Regions from separate parts of the Homo sapiens genome. Here all the other regions are linked to region 1. The links come from fine-mapping of genetic effects on gene expression. A gene starts in region 1. Each other region holds a variant in brackets. All regions are shown on one strand. Distances are between the middles of the regions.

Region 1 (6,269 bases):
TGAAAGAGCCCACCAGGGAGGCAAGCAGGAAGGGTCACGATCTCTAAGGGGGGAGAGAGGAAAGGAGAGGAAGAAGTAAACACTCCAACCTGTGCCTTTCGGGGACAGGCATTAATCTCCTAACAACTCTTGGCCAAAGCAGAAAGCTTGTTCAGGGAACAAGGTCTGACTCTTCCCAACTCCCAAGATTTCTTGCTGATGTGGGGAAAGACCTGCCAAGAACCCTTAGGCTATTAGGAAATATTTTTGAGTGGCTAAAGGCTAAAGGTTAGTTATAAATGATATACTTTCTGTCCTCTCCCCGCGGCCTCTGCATTCTCCTGCTTTCTCCTGCCCTGAACCTCTCCAGCTAAGCCTCCCTCCCTAGAGACTGGGACACACAGGAATCTCCGGGGCAGATCAGAGAAGGGAAACAGGGAGGCTTCCACAAAGGATTACACCCAGCATGAGCTGGTCCAAAGCTTTCTCTTCCTGCAAAGAGCTCTAGAAAGAAAAGGCCTGCTGCTGGGGATTCAGGAAGTCAAACCTGGGCTACCTCCATCTAAGGGCACTCTAGCACTGGCGACAGGGATTATGTGAGCTCAGCTATTATGCAGCTACCGTTGGGATCAAGGAGAAGGCAGAGGGAAAATTTCCTGTCAAGGTTGCCTAAGAAGGAGGGTAGGAGGCTAGAGGCTGGGGGCTGCTGTGGCCCTCCTGTGGGGCTGAATTTACTGCCCTGTAGTCATCAGGACCCTCCAACAGGGTATGAAGGTGTGAAGGTAAGTGTGTGTTGGGTGGTGCAGATGTCATGTAGAGAAGCATCCTCAGCCTGCCTTCAGCAATTCCAGTGACAAGGCAAAGAGGAGAGAACAACCCTAGCATCATTTCCATAAACGTTCCTTTCTTCTCTTCCCCTTCATCCCCATGGGGTTGGAAAGCCACGGAGATGTCCTCAGAGCCCGTGGGGGAAATGTCCTTTGGAGAATCATAAGGCAGCAAAAATAGACAAGAAATTGTGTCCAGCAAGCACTTAGGAGACTCCACAATGGCCTGAGGAACGTCTAGATTCTAGATGAGCCCTCCCTGGGGTGGAGGCAAGGCCACTTCCTCTCCTGCTGCACCCCAGCCCCTTAATCTGGAGTTCCTCTTTCTCACAAGCAGACAGCAACATGTTTACTACCAGCCAAGCTATGTTCCAGGGCTGGGAGGAGAGGAGAGCAGTCCAGCACTGTTCGTAGCGGGTGGAAGGAACACCCTGGACAGCAGGTGGGGTTCTGGGTGGATGGCAGGCCCAGGCTCTGCGGCCTTGCGCAAGACAGATCGCTCTGAGCCTCGATGTCTTCGTCCACAAAACAGGGGCAATGACAAGTACCCGGCAGGGCTGGGTGAGGATCAGATGGGCCTTCTGATACCCTAGAGGCACTGGGCAATGCGGTGCTGTGGCTCGCTAGGTCTTCGCCCCCATCCCGCCCCCTCCCAAAGCCCCAGCTCCAGGAGCCCCCCGCAACCCCAGGCGCTTGTCTCACCTGGCTCGGTACACAGGTAGGAGTAAAAGCCCTCTGACTTGAGCATGATGAGCAGCGAGCCCCAGCCCAGGAGGACTGCCGAGAAGAGGAGGTTCTCCAGCACGGCCGTGCAGGCCATCCACCAGCGGCGCCGATGGGCAGTGGCCAGGGTGGGCGCCATGGTGCGGCGCGGCGCGGCTCCGGCTCCGGCTCCGGCTCTGCACCACCTGCGCACAGAACTCGGCGTCAGCGGCCGGCCCTTGCCCAGCCCCTGCGGCCGCCCCCAGCAGCCCCGACCGCTGCCGCAGGGCTCGGGATTGCCACCCCTCCCCGGCCGCGGCGGCCGGTGCGCGCAGCAGAGGAAGCGAACCCCAGCCCTGCCCGGACCTGGGACACCCCGAGCCCGCGGCCGGCTCGTACCGCTGCCCTCCGCTACGACAGAGCCGCCCCGGCCAGGCAGGGAGACGTCTCCCGCAGCTCACTCCGAGGTAAACTGAGGCATGGAGGCAAGAAGGGGCTAACGCATGCTCAGGGCCGTGGAACTAGTCCTGGCCTGCAGCAGGACTGACATCGCCTGGGGCCAGCATGGAACGCAGCGTGAGGTGGGCAGGGGCAGATCCGAGGGCTGCCTCTCCCAGGGACCCTGACAGGTGCCCTCCCGCCCGCGCCCGAGACCCTTCCCCAGAGCTGGTTTCTTCAACCACAAGATCAGCGCCCAGACCTACGGAACGGCCCGCCCCGGCGCGCTCATTGGCCGGACGGCGCAGGAACTGCCGCGCCATTGGCCGCCGTCTAGGTCGCTAGGCGCTGCGGCCACGCGAACCCAGCGTGGGAGACGAGGAGCCGGTTCAAACCGGTGGCGCGAGCCAGCCGCGCGACCCCCATCTCGGGCGTTCCCCCGGCAACTCGCCCGTTTCCATGGCCTCGGACCCCCGCGCCTCCATTCCCCAGCCCGCATCTGTTCGTCATCTCTTCCCTGGCGGCCCCTCATCGCTCCATCTCTCTCCTCGTTCCCACGTTTTCTCCCTACGCCCCTTCGGCGGCCGCTTCTGCCCCCGCGCCCTCGCCCCGGCCGCGATCCCCTCCCTGCTGCAGCTCACCCGGCTCCTCCGGCGTGTGTCGGGCCCGCCCGGCGCCTTTTCTGCCCTCTTTTATTCCAGCCCTTTTATTCCGACCCCAAGAAGAAAACACTGCCGCCCGCTGATTGGCTGAGCGGGGCTGGAAACAGGCGTCGACCAATCAGCAGCCAGCCCCCCGCCCGCCCCGCCGCGAGCAGAAGCCGGTTCCGGCCGGACTCGGAGACAAACAAGAGAGATGGGGGACGGGAGGGGCCTGGGCGCTGCGGGCCGGGCCTCGGCTTTGCAGCCTTCAACCCGAGTCACAGCGCGGCCGGGAATCCCCGGCGACATCGCCCCGCGGCCTCTCCAGCGGCCTGACCCTGCGAGGCTGGGGCTCCGGCTCCGCGTCCCGGCCCCCAGCGGACTCCCCCCAGAAGCCGCCGGGCCACCAGCGCCCCCAGCCGGGCTCTCCCGCGGCCGCCCCGCCGTCCCCAGCTGCCCCCTGCGCGCGGGTCACCACGCCCAGATGCGCCGGCTCCGCACGGTGGTTCCACTCTCGAATCCCCACCCCGCCTCCTCCCCACGCAGCGCCGCCGTCCCCGCCGCCTCGGGCTTTGGGTCCTGGTTCCTCGCTCCCCCGCCCCGGTGGTTCCCGTCCCGGCGTATTCGGGGCCTGGGATCCCGGACCCGGTCCAGCCGTGGCGCCCCCCGCTGATGCACCGACCCCTTCCCCTCTCCCCGGTGGCGTCTGCCCGGTCCCTGGAAGTTGGCCCTTGGAAATCTGCAAGGGGATTTGGGGCTGGTCTGTCCCGTCCTAGGATGGGGTCTCCTGAGCTCCCCCCATCAGACTGACCTTTCTCCGCCCGTGTTCACGCACTGCTCGGTCCTCCGGGGACCCTCCACCCTTGATCGTCATCTGGGTGCTCCCTGCCCGCGCTGGCCACCTTCACCCCGTTCCCCGTCCCTTTCAGGGAAGGTCCCCTCTGCAGGGCGATGCTACGGGCCACGTCCGCCAGCTGGTACAAGCTAGGGAGGGTTCGAGGGGGCTCCGGGTCCCCGTCTGATAAGCCCGGGCTCCGAAAGCTCAGCTCCCCGTCTTCGTCCCCCGGATTCGAGGCACTAACCCGACCCGGGAAGACCCTCTGACTGCCCCAGAATCGCCTTGGTCACCCTGGCTCGCTCCGGGGGGCTGGCTTAGCACCCCAGGGCTGCCGCGCGGTGTCCACGTCTGGAATCCCAGCGGTTTGGGAGGCTAAGGTCGGAGGGCCACTTGGGGACAGGAGTTTGAGACCAGCCTGGGCAGCATGGCGAGAACCATCTCTACCAAAATAAAAACCAAAAATAAAACCCCACCACCACCCCAGGGCTGTGGGAGCCCCAAACGCCTCTTGCTCCACCTGCCCCAGTCCGAGTGTGCCCCCTACTGTCTAGAATCCGCCCGGGCCACCTGGCGAGGGCAACCTCCCCCAGACAACGCTTGGAGCTGTCAGCCTGCTGGGGGGCGGCTCCAGCTGGTAGCCTACCCGGTTCCTCACCCTGTGGAACCCTTCCCACTCCCAAGGTTTCAACTGCCATCTGAAAAATCTCTTTCTTCACCCTTCCCTCCTCTTTGAGCAGCCTGACGGCGCTGCAGGGCTCAAACATGCCTCAAATATCCCCCAGAACTGTCCTCCACATTTTCTCTCAGATAACCATACTACTACTGTCTACTGAAGTTAGATACCAAGAACCCTGTCTTTTTTCTTTTTCTTTTTTTTTTTTTTTTTTTGAGACAGGATCTCAGGCACCCAGACTGCTGGAGTGTGGTGGCATGATCATAGCTCACTGCAGCCTCGACCTCCTGGGCTTAGGTGATCCTCCTGCCTCAGCCTCCCAAGTAGCTGGGACCACAGGTGCATGCTACCACACTTGGCTAATTTTTGTATTTTTTGTACAGATAGGGTCTTGCCCTGTTGCCCAGGCTGGTCTTGAAGTCTTGGGCTCAAGTGATCCTCCCACCTCAGCCTCCCAAAGTGCAGGGATTACAGGCATGACTCACAGTGCCCTGCTGAGAACCATCCTTTCATCAGACATTTGTTAGGCAGTCGCTGTGATTCTGCCTCTCCCTCACCGCATCCCCATCAAACTGATACAGCTGTATCTCCTACATATTTACCTAATCGGTCCATCTGTGCCCTTAGGCCCGCAACTACTGTTGTTGAGCCACCTTCAGATTTCAGTTCCTCAAATCCAGCCCCCATCTCATCCCAGGGCACTAAGGGAAATGTAAATGTGACTTCTGCCAAAATCCTTCAGAAACTATTATTTGTAAAACAGGATAAAGTTCCAGTTCCTGGCTGGGCACGGTGGCTCACACCTGTAATACCAGCACTTCGGGAGGCTGAGGCGGGCAGATCACTTGAGGTCAGGAGTTAAAGACCAGCCTGGCCAACATGGTGAAACCCTGTCTCTACTAAAAATACAAAAATGGCTGGGCGCGGTGGCTCACGCCTGTAATCCCAGCACTTTGGGAGGCCGAGGTGGGCAGATCACAAGATCAGGAGTACGATACCAGTCTGGCCAAGATGGTGAAACCCTGTCTCTACTAAAGAAACAAAAAATTAGCTGGGTGTGGTGGCGCACACCTGTAATCCCGGCTACTCTGGAGGCTGAGGCAGGAGAATCACTTGAACCTGGGAGGCGGAAGTTGAAGTGAGCCGAGATCGTGCCACTGCACTCCAGCCTGGGCAACAAGAGCGAAACTTTGTCTGAAAAGAAAAAAAAAAAAAAAGATCTGGGTGATGTGGCACACGCCTGTAATCCCAGCTACCTGGGAGGCTGAGGCAGGAGAATTGCTTGAGCTGGGGAGGCAGAGGTTGCGGTGAGCAGAGATTGTGCCACTGTACTCCAGCCTGGGCAACAAAGCGAGACTCCGTCTCAAAAAAATAAACAAAATTTAAAAGTTCCAGTTCCCCAATTTGACCCACACAGGCTCCTCCCTCTCCCTCCCTCTGAAGGACATCTGACCTGCCTGGTCCCCGATGCTCCAGTCACATGGAATTGCCTGTGGTTTCTGCACCTGCTGTTCTCTCTCCTCTAGCTCGCGACATAGCCTCATTTTGGACGGCACCTCCGCTGGGAAGCCTTCCCTAACCACTCCCCATTAATACTGTTCACTTTATTTGTCCACTGCTGGCATTGTTTTATAATTAGCTATTCGTCTGTTTGCCTTCCTCTCTAATTGACTATGAACTCTTTGGGGGCAGGACGGTGTCTTATTCAACTTTGTATGACCAGCCCTTGATAGAGAAGCAAGCACAAAGCAGTTGCACAATATGAGTTTGTGGAATGAAAACATGAACTCCTGAAAAGGGGCAAATGGCCAGGTGCGGTGGCTCACACCTGGAATCCCAGCACTTTGGGAGGCTGAGGTGGGTGGATCACCTGAGGTCAGGAGTTCGAGACCAGCCTGGCCAACATGGCAAAACCCCATCTCTACAAAAAGTACAAAAATTAGCTGGGCATGGTGGTGGGCGCCTGTAATTCCAGCTACTCAGGAGGCTGAGGCACAAGAATGGCTTGAACCTGGGAGGCGGAGGTTGCAGTGAGCCAAGACGGAAAAGAAACAACCTTAGAATACTCATAGAACTTTAAATTGTAATGAGATATAATTGTTGATGGCTAAACACACACACAAAAATTATATATACTTTTTAGAAGCTTTAGTGGCTGGGCACAGTGGCTC
Region 2 (6,269 bases), 43 kb before region 1:
CTTCACCACTGGCTTCAAGTTCACCCAAATCTTGCAGGACGCTGATAAGAAGCCAGATACAAGCCAAATAGGGGAGTGAATGGGTTTCCCCTTGTGGGGACAGGAGAGGGTAAAGGGGAAATGAGCAGGCAGCAGATGGAACTGGAGTGGACACAAATAACCTCTTGGCTGCAGGACCTGACCTAGATAGCACAGCACTGTTTTTTGTTTTGTTTTGTTTTGTTTTTTTGTTCTTTGGGTTTTTTTTTGAGATGGAGTCTCGCTCTGTCACCCGGGCTGGAGTGCAGTGGTGTGATCTCGGCTCATTGCCACCTCTGCCTCCTGGGTTCAAGCGATTCTCCTGCCTCAGCCTCCCGAGTAGCTGGGACTACAGGCACGCGCCACCTTACCCGGCTAATTTTTGCGTTTTTGTAGAGACAGGGTTTCACCATGTTAGCCAGGATGGTCTCGATCTTCTGACCTTGTGATCCACCCGCCTTGGCCTCCCAAAGTGCTGGGATTACAGGTGTGAGCCACCGCGCCCGGCCAAGCACCCTCTGCAATTATCTCTCGTGAATGAACGATTACCGATCCCAGTCTCACACCCACGCAGACACCCTGGATGATCCAAGAACGGACCCCAGGTGCTCACAGATGTGCAGGGAGTCCCAGGCCCACCACTTCCTAACTGTGCGGCCCTAGGCAAACTACTGCAAGTCCCAGCCTCAGCTCCCTCATCTGTAAAATGGGTATAACACTGGTCCCCACTTCGCCAGGGTGCTGGGAGTCTTCACTGAGATACTGTGCATGGAGTCCTCGGTGGAGGGCCTCAGGCAATAAACCGTAGCTTATTATATTAAGGTGTGGAGCCATGGAAAACAGCGTTTGGCTGGGCGTGGTGGCTTATGCCTGTAATCCCAGCACTCTGGGAGGCCGAGGCAAGCGGATCACAAGATCAGGAGATCAAGACCATCTTGTCTAACACTGTGAAACCCCTGTCTCTACTAAAAATATATATTAAAAAAATTAGCCGGGCGTGGTGGCGGGCGCCTGTAGTCCCAGATACTTGGAAGCCTGAGGCAGGAGAATGGTGTGAACCCGGGAGGCGGAGGTTGCAGTGAGCCGAGATAGAGCCACTGCACTCCAGCCTGGGCGACAGAGCGAGACTCCGTCTCAAAAAAAAAAAAGAAAAAGAAAAAAGAAAACAGCGTTTAACTCATCCTCTGATCTTGGAGCCCATCCCTTACATAAAGTAGGACTCCAGTACCTTGTTTAATCTTCACAATCATGAACAACTCTATTAACACATAATATGTTTATAGCAACTCACTACTCAAACTGACCGGAATAAACCTTGCAGGCAGATAACAAAGGGTTGGTGGGCTGCATGATTGAATGCAATGAATGAAAGTCACCATCTGAGCCGGGCGCGGTGCCTCATACCTGTTAATCCCAGTACTTTGGGAGGCTTTAAGATGGTGTAGCCACTGCCAAGGGGTGGAGGGAGGGTGGTCTTAGGAGCAAAATGGTCTGCTAGCCATTGTCTGTACACTTTCACCTGTGTCTCTTTTTCTTCCTTCTTACTCAATGCTTCTTCTTTATTGTTTTTTCTTTTTGAGACAGTCTTGCTCTGTTGCCCAGGCTGGAAGTGCAATGGCGTGATCTCGGCTCACTGCAACCTCCACCTCCCGGGTTCAAGCAATTCTCGCGCCTCAGCCTCCTGAGTAGCTGGGATTACAGGCGCGCGCCGCCACCGCACCTGGCTAATTTTTTGTATTTTTAGTAGAGACCGGGTTTTACCACATTGGCCAGGCTGGTCACTAACTCCTGGGCTCAAGCAATTCACTCACCTCAACCTTCCAAAGTGTTGGTATTATAGGCATGAACCACCCTCCCTGGCCAATTTTTAAATTTTTTGTAGAGACGGGGAGTGGGGGCTGGCCATGTTTCCCAGGCTGGTCTCCAACTCCTGGCCTCAAGTGATCTTCCTACCCCAGCCTTTCAAAGTGCTGGGATTACAGGCATGAGTCACCGCACCTGGCCTCAAACTTTAGCATTTCCATTGCATTCCAAACAATTTCCATAAAGAGGGGAGCAGTTGAAACGCATGCTGAGCTGAATGAGTGAGTCTCTCTAAGGGCTCCGGGAGCAGCTGGAGTGCATTGCTCTCTCCCTCTGTCCCACCCACCCTGTGCCTGACATGCAGCTCTGGGGTCTTTCTGCAGGGGCTGCGGGCTGGGAGCCGGGGCACCGGCCCTGCCTACGCACTGGTTGGCGTCTTTCTCCTCGGGCTCCTCGGAGGCGTCTTCACACTCCTTCAGCCTCCAGTCCATGATGTAGCCAATGACGGGGGCCGTCAGCAGGCACAGCAGCTGGAGCACGCCGAAGATGGAGGTGTAGAGGCCAACTGTGGAGGAAGGCGCTGCGTCATGGGGACGCCTGGCAGACAGCCCTGGAGCAGGGACTGGGCACCAGCTGGGAAGGGGCTGGTCCCCACAGGCTCTTCTGGGGTCTGCCCCAGAACCCCCTGTCACTATGGGTCTTGCGAGGAGCCCGGAGACCTTAACTCTGAAGTTGAGGATGGAGCACGGGGCAGGTCACCTTCTTCTCGGTTCCAAATCCCCTGCTTGTTTCTAAGAAACAGCTAATGAAACCCAGAGTGTCACAATGGCCTTCCCAGAGCTCCAGGAAGTCGCTATAACTTGGGAACTCCTGTGACGGAGGCTAAGTGACGGGCCGTTAGTTTCTGTCTCTAGAAATAGCCCAGAACGGCTGGGCGCGGTGGCTCATGCCTGTAATCCCAGCACTTTGGGAGCCCGAGGTGGGCGGATCACGAGGTCAGGAGTTCGAGACCAGACTGACCAACACAGTGAAACCCCGTCTCTACTAAAAATACAAAAACTAGCTGGGCGTGGTGGCAGGCACCTGTAACCCCAGCTACTCAGGAGGCTACAAGGAGAATCACTTGAACCCGGGAGGTGAAGGTTGCAGTGAGCCAAGATCATGCCTCTGCACTCCACCCTGGGCAACAGAGCAAGACTCCATCTCAAAAAAAAAAGAAATATCCCAGAAAGGCACCGCTCACGGGGCTCTGATGTCAGGGCTTCCATATTCAAAGACTTAAAATGACAGTGGATTTTCCAGGGAAGCAGACGAGGAATGTTGATTGCCCCAGTTTTACCCCCACGGCTCTAGCCAGGAGGCATGTCTGGAGCTTGAGGTGAGGAGCTTCTGGGTTGAACAGAGACTGGCTGGGAGGGGACATCACAGCATTCCCTGACAATCCCCCCCACCCCCCGCTTACCCGTGGCCATCACTGCATCAAGAAAGCAAAAGTGAAAAAGCAGAAAGAAGAGAGGTTAGTGGCAGAAATCTCAGTGCTACAGAGAGATGGGAGAGGAGGCAGGCTCACTCCATGCCCAGCACGCACTGCATTTCCCACACTGCGTTTCCCGCACTGCATTTCCCACTAAGCGTGACTCGGGGCGCTCAGGGGAGGCAGAGCTGCAGCCAGGCCTCTGGAAGTGGACTTGGGACAATGCCCAGCCCGGGCCCCTGCTGACATTCTCCTGTCTGCTGGTGCCGGGTCACAGGCGGACTGGTGAATCAGGCCTGTGACGTTGGCGGGTAGCGTGATGGGGAAGTGG[C/A]GGGCATGCGGAAGACCTGGTGCAATCAGGGTCCCTGTCACCACACTGCCTGCGGGAAGCGGCTCTGTCACATCTACCTCCTGCTGTGCTCAGAGAGAGGGAAAGGTCAAAGAACCTGCCCCTGATGCCCAGCCAAGGCATCTGACACCATGGGTCTCCTCCAGATGGCCAGAGCTGGTCTCCCTTCCACTCCAAGAAACGGGGACCATGCCTGGGCCTGCTCCCCTTCCTTGGGCCATGGCCCCCCTGCCACAGAGGCCTGGTGGCCCCTGAGCTGCTGCTCCGAGTGGAATGTCCTGGTCTAGAGGCCCTTGGCTGCTCCAGTGTCTTAAGACCCATATGTGAGTGCTGGCTCTGACCTTGAACAAGCTCCTCCATCACTCCAGGCCTCGTTTTTCAGGTGTATATGATGATAGTATCTATCATAAATGATGACGTAAACAGATGATAGTATCTATTTAACTCCTAGATTGTTATCAAGTCAAGGACAACAATAGGAAAACATGTCACCTGTCAACTCTTACAAAGGGAGGGTAGGACAGGTGGCCCCTGACTAGGGGGTGGGGGTGCAGGGGGCACCCGACCCATCTGGCCAGCCACAGCCTCTGTACCCTGCTCCCATTTTCAGGCCTCAATCCCCAAGCACTGTTGGCCCTGGACTGTTTTCCCCCCTTAATTCTGTTTCTCAATGCCTGCTTCTTCCCAGTAAGTGCCACACCCTGAGGGTGGGTGGGAGAGTGAGGCAGCAGTGCCCACTTTGGCTGGGACTGGGCACTGCTGAGGACAGCATGGGCCACGTCTTCCCCATCTCAAGACTGGCTTTTTGGCTGGGCATCGTGGCTCACGCCTGTAATCTCAGCACTTTGGGAGGCTGAGGCACGTGGATCACTTGAAGTCAGGAGTTGGAGACATGGTGAAACTCCGTCTCTACTAAAAATACAAAAATTAGCTGGGCATGGTGGCAGGTGCCTGTAACCCCAGCTACTTGGGAGGCTGAGGCAGAACAATCGCTTGAACCCGAGAGGCGGAGGTTGCAGTGAGCCGAGCTCATGCCACTGTGCTCCAGCCCGGGTGACAAGAGCGAAAATCCATGTCAAAAAAAAAAGACTGTATTTTTGGCTGGGCATTGTGGCTCATGCCTATAATCTCAGCACTTTGGGAGGCTGAGGTGGGAGAACTGCTTGAGCCCAGGAGTTTGAGACCAGCCTGGGAAAAATAGCAAGACCTTGTCTTTATGGAAAAAAAAAAAAAACAAATTAGCCAGGCATGGTGGCACACACCTGTAGTCCCAGATACTTAGGAGGCCGAGGTGGGAGGATCCCTTGAGCTCAGGAGTCGGAGGCCGTGGTGAGCTATCAGTTGCACCACTGCACTCCAGCCTGGGTGGCAGAGCAAGACCCCAACTCAAAAAAAAAAAAAAAAAAAAAAAGGCGGCCTTTTCCCAGCTGCCAGCACCCTGGCTAGTTAGGGTTTCCCTGAATCCGCAACTCCTGTTTGATGGCGGGTCTCAAACGCTGGGAGGCAGCAGAGTCACCGGTCAGCGGCAAGGCCTGGAGTCTCCATTCGGAACCAGCACCCGGGAGCCTCTGCCGCGGGTGGTCGCGGGGCCGTACGCGGAGGCGATGGCTCTGGTGCTTTGAGCCGTTCCTCAGCAGCACGGCACACCCCCTCCTGCGGAGCCGCAAAGCTCACGAGTGTGCGGAAAGTGACCCGGACCCTGCAGCTGCCTCTCGGCCGGAGCTAGGGCTATGGGTGTTGGGTGTAACGGGTCACAGAAGGAGGAGGGGGAAAACCAGTGCCTCGTCTGCCACAGACCAACCTTCCTGGCCTGGCTTCCTCTACTTCTTGAAATTGACTTTTTGAACATACGAAACAGTTGGAAACATTCCTCCTGGGCAGCAAAAGATTTCTCAGACAGCTTGAGTAAAAGACGCTGACTCAGCAGCAGGGAGATGAGCCTTTCGAGGGCCAGGGACCAGCTCTCTCTGCACACTTTGGGGTTTCCGCCACTCCAGGGCTGAATGTTTATCAGGCTGGGTGTGGAGGTTTACGCCTGTAATCCCAGCACTTTGGGAGGCCAAGAGGGGAGGATCCCTTGAGCCCAGGAGTTCGACACCAACCTGGGCAACACAGCAAGACCCTATCTCTGCAAAGAATTTAAAAATTAGCTGGGTGTGGTGGCGCGCACCTGGGGAGCCCTAAGAGGTCAAGGCTGCAGCGTTCACATCACTGCACTCCAGCCTAAGCAACGCAGAAAGAGACCCTGCCTCAAAAAAACAAGAAAGAAAGAGACATGATAGATTAGGGTTCCCCAAAGTGTGTTCCACAGATATTTTTTTTTCTTTTGAGATGGAGTCGCACTCTGTCGCCCAGGCTGGAGTGCAGTGGCGCAATCTCGGCTCACTGCAACCTCCACCTCCTGGGTTCAAGCAATTCTCTGCTTCAGCCTTCCAAGTAGCAGGGATTACAGGGGCCCACCACCACGCCTGGCTAATTTTTTGTATTTTTAGTAGAGATGGGGGTTTCACAATCTTGGCCAGGCTGGTCTTGAACTCCTGACCTCATGATCCACCTGCCTCAGCCTCCAAAAGGGCTAGGATTACAGGCGTGAGCCACCGTGCCTGGCCTAGACTACCATTTTCA
Region 3 (6,269 bases), 53 kb before region 1:
TGGAACCAGCACCCGGGAGCCTCTGCTGGGGGTGATCATGGAGCCGCACGTGGAGGCTGGTGGCTCTGATGGTTCGAGCCGTTCCTCGGCAGCACAGCACACCCGCTCCTGAGGAGCCACGGAGCTCATGAGCGTTGGCAAAGTGCTGTCAGTGCTGGCTGTAAGGAAACAGGCTTGACTTTTAACTCAGCCTTTCCCAAACTTGACTATAATACTTTCTTGAAAATCAGAATAACCACTAACATCACAAAACGAGTGTTCTCAGGAGTGGGCATGTTTATCTCGTTCTCTTTTTTTTTTTCTTTTTGAGACGGAGCCTCGCTCTGTTGCCCAGGCTGGAGTGCAATGGTGCGATCTCGACTCACGGCAATCTCCGTCTCCCCGGTTCAAGCGATTCTCCTGCCTCAGGCTCCCGAGTAGTTGGGATTACAGGCGCACGCCACCACGCCCGATTAATGTTTATTTTTAGTACAGACGGGGTTTCTCCATGTTGGTCAGGATGGTCTCGAACTCCTGACCTCAGGTGAGCCTCCTGCCTTGGCCTCCCAAAGTGCTGGGATTATAGGCGTGAGCCACCACGCCCAGTCTTTTTTTAAATATTTGAGTGAAATAAAGCCTAGGAGATATGTGTTCCAGGCGCCCAAGCTGTTAATGTGGAGCTTGAATGTGGCCTGGACCTGCCCTTTCCTCTTCTCCTTTCATCCCCCTCCCTGCCGCCCACATCCTGAACTGCTCTGAGCCTGCAGAAGAACCCAGCGGGAATCTTCAGGGTTGTGGAAGGGTGTAGGGATGGAAAGGGACCAGGATTCGCCTGTTTGGCTGGGAAAATCGGTAGAGGAGGGTGGCTCACACTTCTAAGATGTCTGCACAAGCCCAGTTTGTTTGGGGGTTGGGGAGGAAGGTCTTTTCCTGGCCCACTGTCCCTCCCGAGTCAGCAGTCCCCCAGAGAGACGAAGAGCAGCTGGGCACGGCTGGAGCTGGTCGGTGGCAGAGAATCTTGTCCTGCCTTTTCTTCTCAAGCTCAAAATAGGCACATGCAGCTATTAACTGATATGCCAGAAGGGGCATCCCTTACCCGGAGGAAAATGGATTTATTGCTTTATAAAAAAGAAGTCTAATAAAACTGAAGAGAAAATAACTAAAAATCCAAACACAACTCACCCCTCTAAGCACGCCCAGGAGGTCTCAAGACACACTTCTGGGGGCAGTCAAGGTGGGCGGGTTGGTGGGCCAGGCGGACGGGCCTCCCCCGTCATCAGCTCCAGGGCCCCACGGAGCCCGCCGGCAGGGGGTGCTGTGGGCCTGTGGCCTTGGACAAGCTCCTGGCCCCACGCCAGGATGGCTCCTGGGCACTGGCCCAGCTGCAGGCCTGGCGGCTCCCGCCTGGTCAGTGGGGATAAGGGCTAACTCCTAGAGCCCACCCCGACCCCACACACACCTCGGACCCACCCACGTCCCCACCCCGGCCTGGACCTCCACGTCTGCCGGCCACAGCCTTTCGTCCACCTCCACAAAAGCAGCTGTGTGTATGTACGGGGTGCCCTGGCGGCGGTCCTCAAATTCCCTTCAGGTGGCAGACAGAACGAGGGTGACAGTGAAAACGTGTCCGCGGCATTGGCCCTCGGGGAGGAGGCGAGGGGTCCACCCAGCCCGCTAAACCCTCTCCAGGGCATAAGCCAGGTGGGGCTTCTCCACCGGCCTCCAACGGGTGGGCAGGCCCTGGACAGGCGACAGGGGGCTGGAATTACAAAGGAATTAGCACCGACAACAGGAAGCGGGTCCTTCCTTCCTCAGGCAGCCTCAGGCTGGCCGGGGAGGGGGTGGGGGCCAGGCGCGGGCGAGACAGTGCAAGCCTTTGTCCTCAGGCAGGTACGGCTGTGGGCATGCAGCCGAGGGGCAGGTGGCAGGCAGGGGATGGCAGCCCCCTCTGCTTTGGCAAGAGGCAGAATCCAGACACTGGCGGGAGAGCGCCTGCCTGCCGGGCGTTCCTGGCTCCTGCTGCAGGCACCACAGAGACCCCAGGCCCCGGGTCCCCGGGGGGCGGCAGAGCAAAGTCAGGGCAGCCCCTGCGTTCGGCAGGAGAAAAC[G/T]CGCGTGTCCGGGGCCCTCTCCCGTCCTTCCACCACAGAGCTCCGAGGCAGGGCCCCGGGAGGGAGCGTGAACGCTGGCACGGAGACGGCGAAGGTCCTGGGGGTGCGTGGGGTACTCTGGAGGGGCAGGACAGGGGTCAGTCACTGAAGCACAGGCAGGAGACCGCAGTTCCGAGGCGGCAGCCACTACACGAAGGCCTCCTGGTTGGACGAGCCGTTGATTTTGAGGAAGAGTTTGTCATCCTCCTGCCTCTGCTGCAGCTGCCGCTCCAGCTGGCGCCGGTAGCAGATCAGGTAGAGCGGGAGGCAGAAGCCCAGCAGGCTGAGAAGGAGCAGCCCCACGTTCACCTGGGGAGGCAGGGAGGCCGCGCATCACAGGGCGTGGTGGTGCGCCGAGGCTGCAGACCCGCCCTCCACTCGGGTTTGGGAAAGGGGAGAAGGTCACGGGGTGGAAGGGGGAACGAAACAGGAAGGCCCACGAGGTCCCATATGCCAGCGTCCCGGTTCCCAACTCTTCACAGGCCATGTGGCCACCCTCAGGGCCTGGGCCCCCAGGAAACACGGGCTGATCTGAACCTCTGGGCTTGGAACAAGTTCCTGGTACCTGGTGAGGAAATCTGGCCCTCGGAGGTGGGGCGGGGACAGGAACTGTGTTCTTTTTTTTTTTTTTTTTTTTTTTTTGAGACGAAGTCTCGCGCTGTCGTCATTCAGGCTGGAGTGCAGTGGCGCAATCTCAGCTCACTGCAATCTCCGCCTCCCGGGTTCAAGTGATTCTCCTGTCTCAGCCTCCCGAGTATCTGGGATTACAGGCACCTGCCACCACACCTGGCTAATTTTTGTATTTTTAGTAGAGACCTGGTTTCACCATGTTGGCCAGGCTGGTCTTGAACTCCTGACCTCAAGTGATGCTCCCGCCTCGGCCTCTCAAAGTGCTGGGATTACAGGTGTGAGCCACCGCGCCCGGCCCAGGAACTCTGTTCTATTTCTCCCCAAATCAGGTCCAGAGAGGACATGTTCCTTTTCCTGCCTAGCCACCATTCACAAAGGGACTCTTAACCAATCCTAACCAACGCTCCCACATGTCCTCGGGGCCCTGAAGCCCCCGAGGGGGACCTTGCAGCTCGCAGTTAGCAGAAGGGGGCAGGCGCCCATGACCCACCATCCCCCGACCCCTCTTACCCACAGAGGGTCTCCCTGGAGAGGACCCATCATGGCCAGAAACAGCGGCTGCTGCAGAAGGGCGAAGAGCGCGCTGATCAGAGACTGCAGTCCCGTGAGGCTGCCGAACTGGGTGGAGGGGTACCTGCAGGGCAAGCGACAGCTCACAGCCATCCTGCCTCCTGGGCTTTGCTTGGCCCCAGGTGTCTGGTGACCCCGGGCTGCACCGTTGGTGCCAGAGAAGGGTGGGGTGCCAGCCCTCGGATTCCTTCCTGCTGGGCAGTTCTGTTTTTTTTTTTTTTTTTTTAAGATGGAGTCTTGCACTGTCGCCTGGGCTGGAGTGCAATGACACGATCTCGGCTCACTGCAACCTCCGCCTCCCCAGTCCAAACAATTCTCCTGCCTCAGCCTCCCTAGTAGCTGGGATTACAGGCGCCCGCCACCACATCTGGCTAATTTTTTGTATTTTTAGTAGAGACGGGGTTTCACTACGTTGGCCAGGCTGGTCTCAAACTCCTGACCTTGTGATCTGCCTGCCTCGGCCTCCCAAAGTTCTGGGATTACAGGCGTGAGCCACCGCGCCCGGCCCTGCTGGGTGGTTCTGCAAAGTGTTTCTCTTTGGACCAGCTCCAGGCCCCAGACTCTGGGGAGGGCCCACCCCACTCAGCTGTGCCCAGGGCCTGTGGGTGTCTGGCTGAGCCGAGTGGAAAGCGTGGTGCCAGCGGGGACCTGCGGTTTGGGAAACAGGCCCAGAGAGGAGTGTGGAGGCTGGGCTTGGCTCTGCAGTGCCCTCGTCCAGAGAAGCATTGAGTAATCGCGGAAACTCAGCACCACAGATCCCGCCCCCCTCCCTCAGACCCTGCCAGGACAGCCACAGCTTCCTCCAGGCCTGGGGAGGGGCAGGCGGAGGGCAAGCGGAGCTGGGATTACCCCAGGGGCTGTTGCGGGAATTGGGAGAGAGTTCCGGGCTAAATCTTAGCACATGTCAGGCTCTGCTGGCCCAGAGGTGGGAAAGGAATCCCAGCAACACATGAGCTGGTCCCACATCAGAGACTGTGGATGATGATGTTTGAGTTTCAGTTTTTGGGTCAAGGCCTGAGCCAGAGAAGAAGGAACCACTGTGGTTCCTTTTATGTTTCTGGGGCTTCTTGGAAAAAGATACAGGTTTCATTTTAGCCAGGGCTGGAGAAAGCTATGGCCAGAGCTGGGCGCACTGAGGCTCTGGATGGGCCCGTCTGGTGTATTCTGGACTCAGTCACCCATGTTGCTGCCCGTGATGAGGGCAACTGGAACTTCCGCATTTAGCTTCAGGCAGCCAGAACCTACCCATCCTTCCCAGTGAGCAGCCAGGGCCAGCCCCAGGACTCGGCTGTAGTGGCCCCTGAGGCCATAATGAGCTGCACAGGTGCCTGACCCTGGCTGGGGGAACTGACTTCGTGTTGAATGCCAAGGCTTGTGAGCACCCAACTGTCTGCCCACTGACCTGCTTCCCACGAGGTATGGCCTTTCCCTGAAACACCCAGCAGAAACCCTGGTACCTGTCCCCTGAAGCAGGAAGATGAGCCCTTCTGGGACAGGCTGACCCTGCCTCAGAGTCTCAGTCCCACCAGCAACCTCCCCCCGGCCATTCCCACACCCTCGCCCACCAGGCCACCTGCGGCTTCCAGGACTTACACGGCAGCGTACAGGCCCCCGACAGCGGAGTGGATGAATCCTCGCACGATTGTGTGCAGGATGAAGGAGAGGATCTGGGGGAGGAAAAGGCGACTGTGGGCATAAGGCCTTAAGGGACCGTCCCCTCAGCCCCCGCCCTCCAATTCCTGGGGGCCCTCACCCCAGGGGCAGTGTCAGCCTGGAGTTGGATCAACCCCATCCTCCGGAGCCAATTGTGAATTTTCAGAAATTTTGCAAGCCAGTCGTTAACACAGTCATTTTTTGTTTGTTTGTTTGTTTTGTTTTTTGTTTTGTTTGAGAAGAAGTCTTGCTTTGTCGCCCAGGCTGGAGTGCAGTGGCGTGATCTTGGCTCACTGCAAGCTTCGCCTCCTGGATTCAAGCAATTCTCCTGCCTCAGCCTTCGGAGTAGCTAGGATTACAGGCCCACGCCACCATGCCCGGCTAATTTTTGTATTTTTTAAGCAGAGATGGGGTTTCACCATGTTGGCCCGGCTGGTCTCAAACTCATGACGTTGTGATCCACCCGCCTCAGCCTCCCAAAATGATGGGATTACAGGCATGAGCCACTGCGCCCAGCCTAACCGAGTCATTATTAAAAATTAAATTATAGGCTGGGCAAGGTGGCTCACGCCCGTAATCCCAGTGCTTTGGGAGGCCGAGGAGGTGGATCACCTGAGGTCAGGAGTTCGAAACCAGCCTGGCCAACATGGCGAAACCCTGTCTTTACTAAAAATACAAAAAATTAGCTGGGCGTGGTGGTGGGCACCTGTAATCTCAGCTGCTTGGGAAGTTGAGGCAGGAGAATCGCTTGAACCAAGAGGTGGAGGTTGCAGTGAGCTGAGATCACGGCATTGCACTCCAGCCTGGTGACAAAGTGAGACTCTGTCTCAAAAAAAAAAAATAATAATAATAATAATAATTAAATTATAAGCCGAGAATGGTGGCTCACACCTGTAGTCCCAGCACTTTGGGAGGCTGAGGTGGGTGGATCATATGAGGTCAGGAGTTTGAGATCAGCCTGGCCAACACAGTGAAACCCCATCTTTACTAAAAATACAAAAATTAGCCGGGTGTGGTGGCGGGCGCCTGTATTCCCAGCTACTCAGGAGGGTGAGGCAGGAGAATCGCTTGAACCGGGGAGGCGGAGGTTGCGGTGAGCCGAGATAGCACCACTGCACTCCAGCCTGGGTGACAGAGCTAGACTCTGTCTCAAAAAAAAAAAAATTACATAAATTTATGACTAAATAAATAAATTATATTAAAGTAAAGGTAATGAATACTCAAAACTCTGAAAACTCATCACTTCCTGGCCTGGTGCAGTGGCTCACACCTGTAATCCCCACACTCTGG
Region 4 (6,269 bases), 24 kb before region 1:
AACCTCGTCTTTACTAAAAATACAAAAATTAGCCGGACATGGTGGCAGGCACCTGTAATCCTAGCTACTTGGGAAGCTGAGGCAGAAAAATCGCTTGAACCCCAGAGGCAGAGGTTGCAATGAGCCGAGATTGTGCCACTGCACTCCAGCCTGGGCGACAGAGCGAGACTCTTGTCTCAAAAATTAATAAAAATAAAATAAAATGAAGACATTCACAGTTCTATATACTATGAATAAATTTTCCTAGTTTGTCATTTAACTTCTTAATTCATGGTGTTTTGTTTTTTCAGTTTTTTTTTTTTTTTTTGAGATGGAGTTTCGCTCTTATTGCCCAGGCTGGAGTGCAATGGTGCAATCTCGGCTCACCGCAACCTCCACCTCCCGGGTTCATGCGATTCTCCTGCCTCAGCCTCCCAAGTAGCTGGGATTACAGGCACCCGCCACCACACCCGGCTAATTTTTGTATTTTTAGTAGAGACAGGGTTTCACCATGTTGGCCAGGCTGGTCTCGAACTCCTGACCTCAGGTGATCCACCCGCCTCAGCCTCCCAAAGTGCTGGGATTACAGGCGTGAGCCACTGCGCCCGGCCGAGGGTTTTAAAGATCATAAATAGGGTAGGTATTAACAATAGTTACTATTATGATATGTGTTATGACTTCATAACAGGGAAAATCTTCTGGTCAAGCTGCTCCTGGGCATAGCCAACGAGGGAAGTGTCCTCTGGCAGGAACCACAGCTCTGGGAGGAAGAAAAGGAAGCCGACTACAGGATAAAACACAAATTAGTATTCCCCTTTAAATAAATAATTAGTGTCCACAGAGATGGCCTTTCTTCTCCTGTCCTTGTTATTCTGTTGTGACCACACATTGACTGCTGTCAGGATGTTTATGCTTTGGGTTTCACTGGTCAAGGTCATCCTTCATGTTCTCTTCAGAGAGGTTTCATTTGACACAAATGCTAGGTACTCCCTAAAAGCTGAAACACACTTTTGACCACCTATTTAAAAACTTTTATTGGTCAAAAAACACCATGAGGCCGGGCGCGGTGGCTCACACCTGTAATCCCAGCACTTTGGGAGGCCGAGGCAGGGGATCACCTGAGGTCAGGAGTTCGAGACCAGCCTGGCCAATACGGTGAAACCCCATCTCTACTAAAAATACAAAAAATTAGCCAGGCGTGGTGGCGTGCACCTGTAATCCCAGCTACTCGGCAGGCTGAGGCAGGAGAATCGCTTGAACCCAGGAGGCAGAGGTGGCAGTGAGTTGAGATCGCGCCATTGCACTCCAGTCTGGGCAACAAGAGTGAAACTCTGCCTCAAAAAACAAAACAAAACAAAACAAAACAAAAACTTAAAGATTAGAAAAGTCAAGGGACTCCCCCAAGCTAGTAATGGTCAGATTGGGGATTCAAGCCAGGCCAAGCCTCTGTGTGTAGGCCCCAGGCCACGCTGCCTCTCTGGAGTCTCCTGTGGCTCCGGCCAATACACACTTCAGTTTGGATCCCACGGCTTTTACATGTGCCTTATTAAGATCCAATCTGCGCCCTTCAACTAGAGGTTTATTTTTCATTCATTTACTTATTTATTTTTTGAGACAGAGCCTCACTCTGTCGCCAAGGCTACAGTGCAGCAGCACAATCTCAGCTCACTTCAAGCTCCACCTCCCTGGTTCAAGCGATTCTCCTGCCTCAGCCTCCCGAGTAGCTGGGATTACAGGCATGTGCCACTACGCCACGATGCCCAGCTAATTTTTTTTTTGTATTTTGAGTAGAGATGGAGTTTCGCCATGTTGGCCAGGCTGGTCTCGAACTCCTGACTTCAGGTGATCCATCCGCCTCGGCCTCCCAAAGTGCTGGGATGACAGGCGTGAGCCACCGCGCCCGGTCATTTTTTTAAATTTGTTTTTGGAGATGAGGTCATGCTGTATTGCCCAGGCTGGAGCGCAGTGGCTATTCACAGGCATGATCCCTCTACTGATCAGCAGGACACTTTTGACCTGCTCTGTTTCTGACCTGGGCCGGTTCAGCCCTCCTTAGGCAACCTGGGGGTCCCTCACCCCCCGGAGGTCACCACACTGATGCTGAACTTAGTGTAGACATCTCATCAACACAGCACGCTATTGTGCAGAACTCCTGGGCTCAACTCATCTGCCCACCTCAGCCTCCTGAGCAGCTGAGACTACAGGGGGATACCACAATGCCCAGTCCCCAACTAGAGATGGCTTACATTCCTTCTGAAGCTCCTTTTAGACCCATCTGCCCCCTGCCCTCACCTCCTGCTGTTGCCTTCGGCTGACCTCCCCATGGTCCAGCGCCACAGCATCGGATGGGCTTGCATTTGCCTGTGGACTCCCGTAGGTCATCCTGACATCTGGGTCACTCCCCACATTCCCCCTCTCGCTCACTCCGTCCCCAGCTTCCCTGCCTCCACCGGTCTCAGCTGCGCATAATGGCTGTTCGAAGCCGCGGTGCCGGAGTGAGGGCTGAGCGCTGAGCAGAGCGCCCTAGCGCGGGCCTCGAGGGCTGGCGGAGGGGAAGGACCCCAGGAGGGGAAGGACCAGCTTTGCTGCCAAGCAGGAAGCCGGAGCTGTTTCCTGACTCACCACCACACTCACAGGTGGGAGTGCAAGCCCCTCTTCCCGCCCTCAGGTGCTTCCCACAGCCCCCTCGCCGCCTCTGCCTCCGTGCGGGTCAACCTGTCCTGCCAGCCCGGGCTGTTCACTCACTGCCTCCACGCAGCCTCAGTCACACAGGGAAGCCCGTGACTCTCTCTCTTTCAGCCCCCTGGCTGCAGCATAAACAGGCCGGACTGTGTGACCTTCCCAGAGGGGAAAACAGCAGCTGCAGGCGGCCCCTCCCCTGGCATTCTGGCCATAGAGCATGACCACCGGACAGGAGTGCCTGCAGGGCCAAGGCCCTGGGACAGTGCGGGCGCGGGAGCTTCTCTAAGATGCCGGACGTACGTGCCTTTTGGCCCAGGGCAGGCCATGGCATTGCTGGCAGGCAGAAACAAGGGGCAACCGTGGCACCCCCGGCCCTGACTTTCCACATCCACGGACTCCCGAGTCCTCCCTGGCCTGCAGGAGGCTGGGGAGCTGGGTGGTGGGTGGGGGCTGCGGAGCTGGGAGGTGGGTGGGGGCTGGGGAGCTGGGTGGTGGGTGGGGGCTGGCATTCTGGCCCTCGGGTCCCCTCCAGAGGGAGCCTTGTCCCCAAGTGGCTGGAGTACACACCCAGAGTTCTGTACAACCTGCACAGGCCGGGATCCCGGAACCAGACTGCACAGGTAGACTCTGCCAGGCTGGGCTGTTTCCTACCCACAACAACCGGGCACCTCCAAGCACATGCTG[C/T]CCGGGACAAGGTCCTTGTGGTCACCTTTCTGCTTCAGTGCTGAAGGGAGGGGAAGGGTGTGCTCCCCTCCCCCGGCCACCTCCTGTGCCTTCCCGGCCGGGTCCAGTCCTGCCAATACCGCTGCCCTTTCCGTCTGAACGTGGTCACATACTGCAGCAAATTCATGAGGCAGAACCCTCAGATGGCAAATTCTCCCCAAACCAATGGCAAGTAGCTGACTGCCTGAGCTTCCCCAAGGTACAGGACAGAAAGAGAGGAAGGTGGGGAGGCACAGCAGGCACTGGGCACTGGCAAGTCCCGCTCACCAGGCACCTAGACCCTCCAGAGCTGGCCGGGGGCCACCGCGGGACCCTCTCCTGGACCCTCCAGAGCTGGCCGGGGGCCACCGTGGGACCCTCTCCTGGCTGCAGACGCGGGGTCTACTGAGCCACGGCACTAAACTCCTGTCCCCTCTCTGGGGGCATCTGCCATCCTGCCCTCCTCTCCAGGATCTGAAGAGGGATGTTTATCCTCTTCACTTCCCTCAGATCCCACCTCCCATGAAATCATGCCTTCCTCAGGTTTAAAGTCAGACTTGAAGGAATCAAAAGGGAAAATCCACAGAGAAATGTCTCATCGGGGAGCCTGGCAACATTTTGAAACCCGCTTTTCTGTGTGGCTTCTGCTGAGAAATCCCCATCCCACCCACGGGGACAGGGGTCAGAGTAATGGAGTGGAAATGGCAGGTTCACAATTTTGGCTACAGCTGCTCCCATCTCTAAGCAACCCAGGCTCCGGGTTGGAGGGTGGCGACCCCAAGATGCGGCCTCAGCCGCCGGCCGTGTTTGTGCTCCAGCCGATGAAGCGAGTGCAAAGGGCTGTACAAACGCGAGGCACTGAACAAACACTGAGCGTGCCGTCCAGATGTCCCGGGGGAGGCTGAGGATCCACACCGTGGGGAGTGCTCTGCCCCCATGGAGTGACCTGGCGTCCGCCCTCCACGGATGGCACGCGATGGCCCAGGCCCTGTGCTGCAGGGCCCTGGGAGAGCCAGCACTGGCTACTGGGCAGCCTACCTGACGCGACAGCCACCCTTGCCCCTCGGAGCCTCCACTTGGGAGGGAAATACCACCATGGGTGCCGACCTCTTGGGCTCTGGAAGGATGGCTCATGGCCATCTCCTTCTGGACTACAAGGAAAAGGCGTGTGCCCGCTTGGAGCCCCCTCTCCTACCAGTGGGGGTAACAGCTCGCAGCCCCTGGTCATCTGTATTTAGACCACAGCCCATGCAGCACAAAGGCCCCGGGACCCAGGAAGTCCCCGAATTAAGGCTTCCACAGCGCCGTCCCCTAGAGTCCTGGGTTATCACAGAGCTATTATCCACAGCCCCAACATGGTTGTTGAAGATTGGAGTTAGAAATTCCTAAAGGCGACCCTGGAGACTCCTTTGTCCCCCAAATTAGAACACGGGTGGGAGACACAAACAGAAAGTGCCATTGTGCCCTGAGCTTGGCGTCTCTGGGAGCTGATCCCGACAGTTCTGCTTTCTGAAGTCCTGGGTTGTATCAGAATGAGATTCGGCTCTGCTCAGCAGAAGCCCCAGTCAGCCCAAGAGTGTTGCTTAACTGCTTCAGCCCTGTCCTCACTGACCTCATTTCCCTTTTGGGGTCTGTTCTCAAGGAGCAGGCACTGGAGCCCTCATCAGAGGCCTCAGGGGGCAGGGGAATGCCCATGGAACTCCCTCCACCCTGGGGGGAGGCAGAAAGAGATGACTTAGAAGGAGAGCTGGCCCATGCAACCAGAGGGTGTGGGTGTGAATGGTGGGTGTCAGCACATGCCCTCAGACGAGGAACAGTGACGTAGCAGCTTCCTGGGGCCTCTGGACCAAGGGTTGGCAAACTTTTTCCATAAAGGGCCAGACAATAGACTTTTTTTTTTTTGAGTCAGAGTCTCGCTCTGTCACCCATGCTGGAGTGCAGTGGCACAATCTCAGCTCACTGCAACCTCTGCCTCCCGGGTTCAAGCAATTCTCCTGCCTCAGCCTCCTGAGTCGTGGGGACTACAGGCGCCCACCACCACATCTGGCTAATTTTTGCATTTTTAGTAGAGACGGGGTTTCACCATGTTGGCCAGCCTGCTCTCAAACTCATGAGCTCAGGTGATCCACCCGCCTCAGCCTCCCAAAGTGCTGGGGTTACAGGCGTGAGCTAGTGTGCCTGGCTAAGACAGTAGACCTTTTGGGCTTTACAAGCCATATGGCCTCTGTCACGACTGCGTTGACTCTGATGAGATACCACAAAAGCAGCCACAGACAGGAGCAAACAGGCACAGCTCTACCCCATGAAGTTTTGTTTACAAAAACAGGCAGTGGTCTGGATTTGGCCTGGCAATGGCGGTTTGCTGACTCCTGCTCTAGATCAAAAAATGAAAACCTTGAAGAACAAACCAACAGCCTCCCTTAGACAGACCTCTGGTAGCCAAACGCTTCAAATGGTGATCAGGTGACTCTCTTGCCTGGTCACTCTCTAGCCTGTGTAGCTTTTTGCCTCCAGTGGGAGAGCAAAGAGTGAATAGAAACGCTCCTGCCACAGTGGTTTGTGTGTTTTGTTTTTTTTTTTAAGACGGAGTCTCACTCTGCCACCCAGGCTGGAGTGCAGTGGTGCGATCTCAGCTCACTGCAACCTCCGCCTCCCGGGTTCAAGCAATTCTCCCACCTCAGCCTCCCGAGTAGCTGGAATTACAGGAACATGCCACCATCCCAGGCTAATTTTTGCATGTTTAGTACAGATTGGGTTTCATCATGTTGGCCAGGCTGGTCTTGAACTCCTGGCCTCAGGTGATCCACCCACCTTGGCCTCCCAAAGTGCTGGGATTACAGGTGTGAGCCACCGCACCCGGCCACCGCAGTGGTTTTTAGCCTTCACACAGACCTGCCAGAGGCCAG
Region 5 (6,269 bases), 61 kb before region 1:
CATATGTAACAAGCCTGCACGTTGTGCACATGTACCCTAGAACTTAAGTATAATAAGAAAATAAAATTAAATTTAAATTAAAATAAAAAAAAACAAGCCGACCTTGGACATCATGTCATCTCACCCCTCCAGGTTACAGTGCACATTCTAGAAATATGCACATTTCTTACAAATGCATAATGCCATTGTCATACTTAACAAAATTAATAATGATTTCCTGATGCTATCTCATCCCCAGTTCATATTCTAATTTCCCTGCTAATCTAAAAAATGCTATAGTTTCCTTTAGAGAAGTTCAGTATCCAGGCAAGGTCCATGTATTTTTTTTTTTCACACTTTATTTTGAGTTACGTTTTTTACATCTTTTTCAATAGCAAGTTTGCTGCAGATGTCCATACGGGTTAGACGCAGGGGTCACACCACTCTCCAGCTGTGCCACACTGTGAGCCAACAGCCCCACCCAGGACACAGACTTCCGCTGCCTTGGAGTCCCAGGCCTCCACTTCCTACCTCTGTGACCTTGTGCAAGTGACTTAACCTCTCTGTATCTCAGTTTCTTCACTTGGGAAATAGGGAACATGCCGGTACCTGCGTCATGGGGCTGCTGAGCCTCCTTGGATGAGGCAATGGACATGAAGCAGCTTTCTGCAGTGAGTGGCATATTTCCTTATTATTATTATTATTATTATTATTATTAATTATTGGGAAAAGGGCGTTGTGAACAAGGAGGGATGGACACCCCTGCCCCTCAAAACTACCTCTAGGCTGGTCACGGTGCCGCACACCTGTAATCCCAGCACTTTGGGAGGCCGAGGTGTGTGGATCACCTGAGATCAGGAGTTCGAGACCAGCCTGGCCAACATGGTGAAACCCCGTTTCTACTAAAAATACACAAATTAGCCAGGCGTGGAGGTGTGCGCCAGTAGTCCCAGCTCCTCGGGAGGCTGAGGCAGAAGAATCATTTGAACCTGTGAGGCAGAGGTTGCAGTGAGCCGAGATAGAGCAAGACTCTGTATCAAAAACAAAACAAAACAAAAAACCTACTTCTGCATTTCTGCATGCTCCAGGCTTAACAGAGGAAAGAAACGAGCAGCTTTCCATGGATCTCTCTCTCTTTGCCTTGCTCCCTCTGTCCGTCCTCTCTCAGTTTCTCAAGCTCCCTCTCTCTTCCTGTTTCTCCTGTCCCTTTCGTATCTCTCTGTCTCTCACTTGTGTCTCTCTGGCTCTCCCAGGCTGTCTCTCTCTGGACCTCTGTCACCCTGTCTCATTCTCTCTCTGTTCTCTGTCCCTCCCTTCACATCTCTGTCTCCCTTTATGACTGTCGTCTCACTTCTCTGGGCTCTCTGCATTTCTGCCTCACCTTTACCTCGCTTCCTGTCTCTCCTCTTTGGGCCTTTCCCTTCCCCTCTCTCCCACTTCCTGTGGTCTCAGTCTTTGTTTTTTTTTTTTTTTTTATTATTATTTTTTGAGACAGAATCTTGCTGTGTCACCAGGCTCGAGTGCAGTGGCGATCTCGGCTCACTGCAAGCTCCGACTCCCTTGTTCAAGCTATTCTCCTGCCTCAGCCACCCGAGTAGCTGGGATTACAGGCGCATGCCACCACGCCTGGCTAATTTTTGCATTTTTAGTAGAGACGGGATTTCACCGTGTTGGCCAGGATGGTCTCGATCTCCTGACCTCGTGATCCGCCTGCCTCGGCCTCCCAAAGTGCTGGGATTACAGGTGTAAGCCACCGCGCCCAGCCCTTGTTTTGTTTTTCTTCTCTTTTTTGAGACAGAGTGTTGCTCTGTCGCCCAGGCTGGAGTGCAGTGGCATGATCTCGGCTCACTGCAAGCTCCATCTCTCGGGGCTCAAGCGATTCTCCTGCTTCAGCCTCCCGAGTAGCTGGGATTACAGGAGCCCGCCACCACGCCCGGCTAATTTTTGTATTTTTAGTAGAGACGGGGTTTCACCATGTTAGCCAGGATGGTCTCGATCTCCTGACCTCGTGATCTGCTCGCCTCAGCCTCCCAAAGTGCTGGGATTACAGGCGTGAGCCACTGCGCCTGGCCAATTTTTTTTTTTTTTTTTTTTTTTAAGAGACAAGCTCTCATTATGTTGCCCAGGCTGGTTTCAAACTCCTGGGCTCAAACGATCCTCCTGGCTGGGCCTCCCGAATTGCTGGGATTATAGATGTGAACCACAAGACCCCATGTTTCATCGTCTCTTTGCGGCTATCTCCTTTCCCCTGTGTCTGCTGTGTTCTATCACAGTCTATTTCTCTCTCTCACTCCTTCGTCTTTTTGTTTTGTTTTGTTTTTTCTTTTTTTTTTTTTGAGATGGAGTTTCACTCTTGTTGCCCGGGCTGGAGTGCAATGGTGCCATCTCAGCCCACTGCAAACTCTGCCTTCCAGGTTCAAGCAATTCTCTTGCCTCAGCCTCCCGAGTAACTGGGATTACAGGTGCCCGCCACCACGCCCGGATAATTTTTTGCCCTTTTAGTAAAGATGGGGTTTCACCATGTTGGCCAGGCTGGTCTCCAACTCCTAGGCTCCAGCGATCCACCTGCCTCAGCCTCCCAAAGTGCCAGGATTACAGGCATGAGCCACGGCACCCGGCCACTCTTTCATCATTGTGTCTGTGGATCTCACGGTTCCAGTTCTCAGCATGGTTTCCCCTGGGTGGTTGACCCTTGGTACTGCGTCGGTTATAGCCAGCCCTGTAACCCATCTCTGGGTGTCCTGGGGAGACTGTATTTCACTGTTTCCATCTTCCGCTCTGCTCTTCTCCCAGCCTCTTAGTCTATTTTAGCTTCTTTTCTGTGGTATTTCTGTCTCTCTCTCTTTTTAAACTTCGTCCCCCAAATATTTATTGAGCAGCTATTCCATGCCAGGCACGATTCTAGGCACTGGGGGTAGAGTGGGGACCAAGGCAGAGCATGCGCCAGCCTTCAAAGAATGTTTTTTTCTTTCTTTTCTTTTTTTTTTTTTGAGACGGAGTCTCGCTCTGTTGCCCAGGCTGGAGCGCAGTGGTATAATCTCCGCTCACTGCAAGCTCCGCCTCCCGGGTTCACGCCATTCTCCTGCCTCAGCCTCCCGAGTAGCTGGGAGTACAGGCACCCGTCACCACGCCCGGCTACTTTTTTGTATTTTTAGTAGAGACGGGGTTTCACCGTGTTAGCCAGGATTGTCTTGATCTCCTGAGCTCGTGATCTGCCCGCCTCGGCCTTCCAAAGTGCTGGGATTACAGGCGTGAGCCACCGCACCTGGACATTTTTTGTAGTTTTAGTAGAGACAGGGTTTCACCATGTTAGCCAGGATGGTCTCGATCTCCTGACCTCGTGATCTGCCCGCCTCGGCCTCCCAAAGTGCTGGAAATGCTCGCCACCACGCCTGGCTACTTTTTGTATTTTTAGAAGAGACAGGGTTTCACCATGTTGGTCAGGCTAGTCTCGAACTCCTGACTTCAGGTGATCCGAGGGGGCTTCCTTTATAAGCAGAATTCACCAGCAGCCTTGGTCTTCCCACCCAAAAGGCCTGTTGCTCTGCCCTCCCACACTCCTTCAAATGGCAATGCAGATCAACCAGCAAATGCAGCCTGGCAGGGGTGGGGGTCAGGAACGCATCCCAGTCAAGGGACAGGGAACCTGGGCACCAGACAAGAGGCGAGAAATGTGTGATCTAGGGAGAAAGAGACACAGGAGCCAAGGAGGAAGCCGCTCGCAGTCATTCTCAGCATACATTTATTGAGTGCTCACTGTGTGCCAGGAAGTAAGCCAGGTGCTAGAAACGGCAAAGGAGCAGGGAAGAGGCGGGTCAGCCGCTGGGTTGACCCTGGTTAATACAGGGTACGGATTAACCCTTCAGGCTCCCTTCCGAGGGCCTGGGCGGGGTCTTGGGGCCGCTCCTGCCCAGGTGTTCTTTCCAGCAATGGAAAGGGATTCAGCGAGGTAAGACGCTTCCCCTCTCCTCCATTCAGAGAGCGGCACACAAGAAATCTACACAGTCTTCCCAACATGTACACACCCTGACATGCCCGGATGCATCTCACACTTAGATAAACACACACGCACACAGTCAGAGGCACGGTCCCGCAGCTGTATGAGGATGCGGTGTACAGGTGCTGCCTACGTGACCGTGCCTTGAGTCGCCCCACTCAGCAGAAACCTCACTCAGCAGAAACTTGTCCACCAGTGATTGATTATCTCGAGCAGCTATTTGGCCAAGTCTTACCAAAACGTGAAAGCCACAAAAGAAAAGTGAACGAGAGAAGAGTTTCTTAAGGCTTTGCTCGGAGAGGGCTTCGGAGAAGGGTGGGGTCAGCAGATACAGACCTTACTTTTTTTTTTTTTTTTTTTTTTTTTGAGACGGAGTCTTGCTCTGTCGCCCAGGCTGGAGTGCAGTGGCACAATCTCGGCTCACTGCAAGCTTCACCTCCCGGGTTCATGCCATTCTCCTGCCTCAGCCTCCCAAGTAGCTGGGACTACAGGTACCCACCACCACGCCCAGCTAATTTTTTTTTTTCGTATTTTTAGTAGAGATGGGGTTTCACTGTGTTAGCCACGTTGGTCTCGATCTCCTGACCTTGTGATCCGCCCGCCTCAGCCTCCCAAAGTGCTGGGATTACAGGCGTGAGCCACTGCGCCCGGCCCTAATTTTTGTATTTTTAGTAGAGTTGAGGTTTCACCATGTTGGTCAGGCTGGTCTCAAACCCCTGACCTCAAGTGATCCACCCCGCCCCC[G/C]CTTCGGCCTCCCAAAGCACTGGGATTACAGGGATGAGCCACCTCGCTGGGACCAGACCTTACTTTCTTGACTTGGCCACAAGTCTGTCCTGCTCAGAGCTGCTGAAAGTGGCTCTCCTGTTGTATGGGCTTGGGTGTGGTGTGGTGGCCCTTTCCCTGTCCCAGCTGCCTTCTTCCTGGGCACTGAAAACGATGCTACCATTGTTTTTTTTTTTTTTTTTGAGACGGAGTCTCGCTCTGTCGCCCAGGCTGGAGTGCAGTGGCGGGATCTCGGCTCACTGCAAGCTCCGCCTCCCGGGTTCACACCATTCTCCTGCCTCAGCCTCCCAAGTAGCTGGGACTACAGGCGCCCGCCACTACGCCCGGCTAATTTTTTGTATTTTTAGTAGAGACGGGGTTTCACCGTTTTAGCCGGGATGGTCTTGATCTCCTGACCTCGTGATCCGCCCGCCTCGGCCTCCCAAAGTGCTGGGATTACAGGCGTGAGCCACCGCGCCCGGCCAAATGCTACCATTGTTAAGTGCCAGGCGTCCCACCATGCGGGTCTTCACTGCGTATCCACGTAGCTGCACCACGCAGGCATTCTTTCCTCCCTTTTGCAGATGATGGCACCAAAGTTCAAGACTCGCCCAGGGCCACCAAGACAGTCCTCTAGACTTTGGTCTTCCCTCCTTGCCTCCTCGGCCTGGGGTGGTGGCGCCTCGGTCTGAGAAGGGTCGAGGTCTGGGTGCTGCTAGTGGCCCTGGCTCAGTCTCAGAGCTGCCCGGAGGGGGTGAGGATGGCTAACTTAAGGAGCACAGGCAGAGGCTTCCTGCTGGCAGGAAGAGGGCTGAGCTGCGGAAGGCCACCCAGGTGGAGTGTGCTGCACCTCCTTCAGTGGCCTTCAGGAGCTCTGTCCTCACCCAGGGATTGGGGTGAGTCAGGGCATGGGGAAACAGGCTCACAGAGCCCACCTGCTCACCCTGACCACCCCACCCCAGGGGACCCCAGGCTCCTAACTCTCAGAATCCCACAGTCTGTATTGGCGGAAGACGGGCTGGCACCCTTGAGTTAGGCCCCCAGTCGTTGGCACAGATAAGGGGAGCTGCTGCTGAAGGAGCCCGACGGCTGATTCTGTGGAGGCTTCTCAGAGCTCCTGGCAGGAGCCCCTCACCGCAGGAGGCCCACAACCCCTCCCAGCTGCATATCGGCTCACATTCACGCGGCTGCCACACAAGTGCGTCGGAAACTCCACTTGGCTGAACGTGATTGTGCTGCTGTCTGGGACAGTCTTATGCACGTGAGCCCAATACTGGATGTCCCGCCATTTTCAGCCCTGGGGCCTATGGCAAAGTGACGCCCCCCTCGGAGTGCACGGCAGGCAAGGAAGGTTTAAACGGAAGTTCTGACCAGGACGATGCTGGGTGCAAGAGGGGACGGGGATGGAGCAAAACAGAAAGGATCCACCAGGGCCTGCAACCACGTCTTTGGCCCCGGTGAGGGGTGGGACCTTGTGTATAGGTCCAGGCAGCAGCAGCTGCAGACAGAGGCCTAGAGGGTTTGGAGAAGG

Direction of the effects. Positions count from the first base shown, and alleles are read on the strand shown. Sizes are in standard deviations (SD) of each study's normalised expression. Not every link is listed here.
For the expression in thyroid of the gene that starts at base 2,628 in region 1, allele C in region 4 goes with a lower level than allele T (small effect, 0.22 SD a copy in GTEx).

What was found.
Region 2: its variant is fine-mapped to the expression of SLC43A2 in whole blood (TOPMed, PIP above 0.99).
Region 3: its variant is fine-mapped to the expression of SLC43A2 in whole blood (TOPMed, PIP above 0.99).
Region 4: its variant is fine-mapped to the expression of SLC43A2 in thyroid (GTEx, PIP 0.96).
Region 5: its variant is fine-mapped to the expression of SLC43A2 in whole blood (INTERVAL, PIP above 0.99).

Annotation. Positions count from the first base shown.
Region 1 is chr17:1,626,207-1,632,475 of GRCh38, forward strand. It overlaps SLC43A2 (solute carrier family 43 member 2), which reads right to left and starts at 2,628. Exons shown (of 14, transcript NM_152346.3): 1 at 2,588-2,628; 2 at 1,509-1,714. The coding sequence starts at 1,668. RefSeq lists enhancers at 801-1,338, 1,339-1,876.
Region 2 is chr17:1,583,666-1,589,934 of GRCh38, forward strand. SLC43A2 (solute carrier family 43 member 2) reads right to left here. Exons shown (of 14, transcript NM_152346.3): 10 at 2,248-2,386. Among named protein-coding and RNA genes, the nearest start is that of PITPNA, 24 kb to the left of the region's middle. RefSeq lists enhancers at 1,416-1,963, 1,964-2,509, 2,510-3,056, 3,057-3,602, 3,603-4,149 and 1 more. The variant C/A (reference allele first, on the strand shown) is at 3,627.
Region 3 is chr17:1,573,331-1,579,599 of GRCh38, forward strand. It overlaps SLC43A2 (solute carrier family 43 member 2), which reads right to left. Exons shown (of 14, transcript NM_152346.3): 12 at 4,920-4,993; 13 at 3,267-3,390; 14 at 1-2,435. The coding sequence ends at 2,274. Among named protein-coding and RNA genes, the nearest start is that of PITPNA, 14 kb to the left of the region's middle. RefSeq lists enhancers at 2,186-2,998, 2,999-3,810, 3,811-4,622, 4,623-5,433. The variant G/T (reference allele first, on the strand shown) is at 2,088.
Region 4 is chr17:1,602,469-1,608,737 of GRCh38, forward strand. All of the region lies in intron 5 of SLC43A2 (solute carrier family 43 member 2), which reads right to left. It also overlaps the pseudogene RN7SL105P. Among named protein-coding and RNA genes, the nearest start is that of SLC43A2, 23 kb to the right of the region's middle. RefSeq lists an enhancer at 4,075-4,840. The variant C/T (reference allele first, on the strand shown) is at 3,346.
Region 5 is chr17:1,565,564-1,571,832 of GRCh38, forward strand. SLC43A2 (solute carrier family 43 member 2) reads right to left here. Exons shown (of 14, transcript NM_152346.3): 14 at 3,705-6,269. Among named protein-coding and RNA genes, the nearest start is that of PITPNA, 5.9 kb to the left of the region's middle. RefSeq lists enhancers at 1,425-1,474, 5,862-6,269. The variant G/C (reference allele first, on the strand shown) is at 4,721.